Regions from separate parts of the Homo sapiens genome. Here region 2 is linked to region 1. Evidence: fine-mapped expression QTL. Tissue or cell type: whole blood. Region 1 holds a variant in brackets; the other region holds the start of a gene. All regions are shown on one strand. Distances are from middle to middle.

Evidence for each region. PIP is the estimated chance that this variant, and not a neighbour inherited with it, causes the effect.
Region 2: SH3BP5 starts here. The variant in region 1 is fine-mapped to the expression of SH3BP5 in whole blood (TOPMed, PIP above 0.99).

The regions. Positions count from the first base shown.
Region 1 is chr3:15,258,524-15,261,280 of GRCh38, reverse strand. It overlaps SH3BP5 (SH3 domain binding protein 5), which reads left to right. Exons shown (of 9, transcript NM_004844.5): 6 at 1,478-1,520; 7 at 2,231-2,450. It overlaps SH3BP5-AS1 (SH3BP5 antisense RNA 1), which reads right to left. Exons shown (of 3, transcript NR_046084.1): 2 at 699-2,647. Among named protein-coding and RNA genes, the nearest start is that of SH3BP5-AS1, 5.7 kb to the right of the region's middle. The variant C/T (reference allele first, on the strand shown) is at 1,425.
Region 2 is chr3:15,331,177-15,333,676 of GRCh38, reverse strand. SH3BP5 (SH3 domain binding protein 5) reads left to right here and starts at 1,091. Exons shown (of 9, transcript NM_004844.5): 1 at 1,091-1,406. The coding sequence starts at 1,269. RefSeq lists silencers at 983-1,382, 1,463-1,522.

The DNA.
Region 1 (2,757 bases):
AACATACATATGTACACATACATGCAGAGGAACACCATTTAACCATTTACTATTGCACTTAATTGACTAGTGTATTTTTGTTTTGGTTTGGTTTTTGGTGTGTCAGGGGCTGATCTCCTGAGAGCTAAGTAGTAGACGTGTATATGGCATTTTTCTGCAGGGGAGGCAGGAGGTGGCGAGGGTTGTTGTAGGACCTGTGCCTGCTCTGGGCAAGCCCAGGCATCATCCACATGCCAACACCCAAGGAGGCCGAGGAGCAGCCTTTGATGCTGCTTCCTTTGGTGTGAATATGGTGGGTCTTTTCTCAAAAGACCCCGAATTCACACTGCACACACATCACATACTCATCCATTAACCTGTTTAAGAAAATAAATCTTGTGATTGTACTTTGCCAACCTTTTCAGACTCCGAGAAGAGTACAGGGATAGATCGTAGTCTTGGGTGGCTCCTGTCTGCCCAAAGGTTAAAATGTACATCTGTGCATTCCACAGAGTGGCTTCCAGGCCACCTCCATGCCCACCCTGCCTCTCCAGCCACACTCCCTTGCATGGATGCTCATGTTCCTTTTGCTGGGACATCTTCCCTGTGCCCTCCGATGCCCATTCACACACATACTCTTCACCTTGTGCTCCTTTTGGTCACACGAGAGAGCTTATACACCTCTCTCTCCCCCCAAATTTCAGGATTTTCATACCCACCAATGGCAGTCCTGTGTCCTTGTCATCCATCTGGATCCTCAGGATGCAGGACTTGAGAGCTTCATGGAGGGTGAACAGCTCAAGAATAAAGCAGTGATCTACTCTTAATGTTCAGGCACCAAAGTTCCTAAAAAAGAGCCAAGCTCTTTCAGCTGACCCAGAACCAAGGGAACTGCTAGGACGCTGGCATTTCTTGGGCCCATTATGTGGCTGAGTCAGCCAACTAATAACTCCAGTCTTTGGACAAGGTTTGGGAGGACCAACCTGAGACCCCCTCCTAGTGGTGGCCTTGCTGTGCTGTGAGGGAGGAGTGGTGCTTCTCTCTCTTCCCCAGTTGACTTCAGTAGAGGAGGAGGTTTAAGCAGCCCCTTCTCCAGCCTCAGCTGCTCTTCATCCCTGGGGAGCCAACTTCATTAGGAGAGCAGATCCAGGCCACCCTTACTGCTGGGTATAACCTGTGAGGCTCTGAACAGCCTTCCCACAGAGGAGGAACATGAGCTAAGTTGCAGAGTCCCCAAGATATGTGTGTGTGGGTTCCCCGTGTCTTGAGATGGGCCTCCTGTTAATATAGCCCTGGGTGAGCCCAGTCGTTCCATCTGGTGTCTGTCAGTCTCCAGAGCTAGGAGCATCACTGACATGTCACGGCCTTGTTAAGAGTTTACTAAATATTGGAAGGACGACCTGGCCAGTGGTAGCTGATGCCTCTTGTTCATCTTGTGGAGTTGA[C/T]TGTGGTCACTGTATTATATTACTCTGATGGCTTTCCTTCCTGTCTTCTGCAGGCCTTATTTTGAACTCAAGGCAAAGTACTATGTGCAGCTCGAGGTATGTGTAGCTTTGGGCTTCGTCACTGATGAGATTTTTCTGCACTCAAAGCTTCACTTTTCTGGGGTAGCAGAGTATCACATGGGCCACTTGCTATAAGGGGAAAGTGGAGAGACAGGCTTTACTGAGTTTTCAGACCTCAAAATTGTCTCGGTTGGGTCTTCAGTGGTCTCTGAACCTCTGTAACTGCCATTCAGTCACCTTCTCTGTTGTACTAGGCCAGTGGTTCTCACAGCATGCTCTTAGGACCAGCAGCATCAGCATCACCTGGAGACCTGATAGACCAGGTCCCACTCTAGACCGACTGAATTAGAAACTCTGAGGTTGGAGTCTAGTGAGCTGAGTCTTAACACCCAAGGGGATTTTGATGCAAGCTCAACTTTGAGAACCACTGTACTGGGAACCAGATGTCTAGACTGTGGGACTTTGGTGTGTCTGATGCCCATTTTTGCTTCCCTGATGGGGTTTGTTCCACCAGTGAGAGTTTTTGGATATTAGAGGTTGTCACCTGGATGGGATCTGGGGATGGTGGTGGCTGATTTTGTCTGGTGAATGAATAGCAGTTACAATGGTAATTAGGTCTTCAGTCATGTCTTGGAAAATTCCTTGAAGTAGAATGATGGGCAGAAAATGTACTTGAACCTGTCATTCAGAAAGCATCTTAAGGCTAGCAGGGTAGTCTTCACTTAGTCTCCTGTTCTCTTGATCAGCAACTGAAAAAGACTGTGGATGACCTGCAGGCCAAACTGACCCTGGCAAAAGGCGAGTACAAGATGGCCCTGAAGAACCTGGAGATGATCTCAGATGAGATCCACGAGCGGCGGCGCTCCAGTGCCATGGGGCCTCGGGGATGCGGTGTTGGTGCTGAGGGCAGCAGCACATCTGTGGAGGATCTGCCAGGGAGCAAACCTGAGCCTGATGCCATTTCTGGTAAGTCAGGGGCTCCACTGGGTATGTGGGGAGATATCAGACTGTGTGATTTGTTTCCCAAGGTCCTCACTTTCTCTGGCCATCAGTGAAAGGTCTCAGAGTTGGGCAGGCCTGAGGGCTATTTCTGGTGGGTTCCCATGTTTTATGGAACACTGTGTTCATTAAGAAGGTACTAAGTGTTCCTCAAAGTCAGGATTCTGTGGTCAAATAAATTGGGAAAATGTTACACCTTCACTCCTCTTTGAGAGTCAAAGTATACATTTGAACATTCAAGGCTGAGAAGTCCTGCAGGAAAGAAGAGCTGTAA
Region 2 (2,500 bases), 73 kb before region 1:
CTGATAAAACCACCAGGAGCAGGACTATTTATTCATTTGAGAAGGGGTCTGGCTGTATTGTCCAGGCTGGTGTTGAACTCCTGGCCTCAAGTGATCCTTGTGTCCTGGCATCTCAAAGAGCTGGGATTACAGATACGAGCCACCACGTTGTGCCAGACCCAGGTTTTGTAAGGTGGCTTTGATGATAGGTTCTCAGAAAGAAGCTCCTTTCTCAAGCAAATTTGTCCTCCAAACTCAGAGCCGATGGGCTACAGGCCTCCGTGTAGGACATGTGCACGTTCTGCATTTCTCAAGGCAAGGAGACGTGAGCAGCCATGTGCTCATCTGCTTTGCCAAGGTCATCCTTTGCGTTCCCCTGACATCACAGTGGCCCTGACATTTCATAAAAGCACACACACGTGCCTCTTCAGTTTGGCCTTTTCGGATGCTGTGTCTGCCAGGCCAACTCTGTCTCCCTACTTGTTGATGGTGGGCAGAAAGTCTCACTAATTCATAAATTCTTGGCCAGAGTGTGCCCATCAACAGGGGTTACACTTGCCACCTCCTTAAATCCCAGCTCAATGCATTCTCCATGCTCCTGGCTATTCAGGTAGGACCGCCGCACCTCTGTGTTTCGGTATGGGGCTCGCCCAGAGAGGCCGCAGCCTTCGGCAATGCATCAGTGCACGGAACCTCCGCCATTCCCAAGGTTCGCTCAAGAGGATGAGTGTGCTTTGGGTATAGGGTTTCGGCAAGTCTTGGTCCTGAGGGCCAGGGTCACTGAGCGTAGGCTTCAGAAGGCGACTTCAGTGTGAAAACACCCACGCCTCCCTACCACACAAACAACGAGCCTCGGAGGAGGGCTGGAGGAGGGGACTCCCGAAAGCGGGAGGCTTGCGTTACGTAGTTGAGATATATCCGAGCTGCTAAGTTACAAGGGGGTGGGGGCTGTCCTATTTTGCCACCTTGGAGATGTGGAGGGAGCTGGGGTTTTGCGACGGAGACCTGGATAGCTGGGACTGGCGGCGGAACGCGAGGCCGGGGCGGGACGGGGGCGGAGCGGGCGCTGCGCTGACTGCCGCGGCAGAAAGGGGGCGGCCGCGCCCATTTCCTCTGCTCCGCCGCGGCCGGAGGTATCCGCATCGGCGAGCTGCGTCTCCCGGGTGTCGGCCCCGGCGGCTCCCCGACCGTGCCCGGCTGTGGCGAGGCGGCTCCAGCCCAGCCTGTGGCAGCCGCGACCCCCGGGGCGCTCCGGAGCCCACTGCGCGGCGCGCGTGCCGGCTGCCTGCATGGACGCGGCACTGAAGCGGAGCCGCTCGGAGGAGCCAGCCGAAATCCTGCCGCCTGCCCGGGACGAGGAGGAGGAGGAGGAAGAGGGGATGGAGCAGGGGCTGGAGGAGGAAGAAGAGGTGGATCCCCGGATCCAGGTAGGGCGCGCGGGGTCGCCCCGCATCCGGGCTTCGCGAGGGCTGCTACGGAGGTCGGTGTCTACGCGTACAGCCACTTCGCAGCCCCCAGTAACTGTGGTCCGGGGACTGGCGGCCACATAGGGTGGCAGGAGACGGTCTGTATGCTCCGTTTCATCGTCTCCACAATGAGGAGGCTACAGTGCCCGCGTGGATGCGGCCTGACTCTATTGCGGGGAGTCCCCCGCCGACCCGTAGCAGGATCGGGGTCGGTGCAGCGTGCCTGGTGGTTCGGGTGGATGTGCAACAAAGGGAAAAAGGGGGCGGGGGCGCCATGGTATCCTCGGGGGTACCCCTGCCCGGCCGCGGCACCGCGGGCATGGCACGGCGTCCAGGCTCTGCGAGGAGGTGTCGCCCGCGTGGGCGCCGGGCACCGTGGGCGGGTGGGCGTTGCCCTGCAGCGCGGGCTGGCACCGGTGCCCCGGGTGCAGAGTCCTCACTTGCCAAGGTGCCCGGCCTGAGCCGTTTTCCTTCTCTGATTGATTGTTAGCGAACTGAGCGGCTTATTGTCATCACTGGCTCAACGTTCTGCCTGGCTTGAAATTGCTTAAAACCCTGCTTTTCCTTGTTGTGAGGTTGGGCATGAAAAGAAATCGGGGACAACTGATGCGCAAAGCTGACGCGTGGAGGCGGCGAGGGGATTGGGCTGGCTGGCTGTGCCTCCATTTCCAAGAGAGATGATTAAAAAACAATTTCCAAGCCGAGATCTAGGAGTGACAGTTTCACCTCTTCACCCCTAAGCAAAAAGCAGAGCAAATCCCTTTCTAAGGCCCGTTTTTTTTCTACCTTTTCAATAAATCATTTTTTTAAAAAAATTGCTTTTAAGCATGCTCTGTAATTTCTGGATACCTAATTGGTTTTTTAGTGCACAGATCAATTTAAAAGCTCACTTAACTCAGTGGTTGGGGTTTAAATGAATTGTTTTGTCAGCTTAGCAAGATAAAGATCAGGTGGAAAAAAAATCCTTGCATTAGGAATGCTATTAATTAAAGTAATTGGTTTGGAATAAATCGTGTGTTACTGGTATGGGATTATGTTAGCAAGATCCTTTGTTT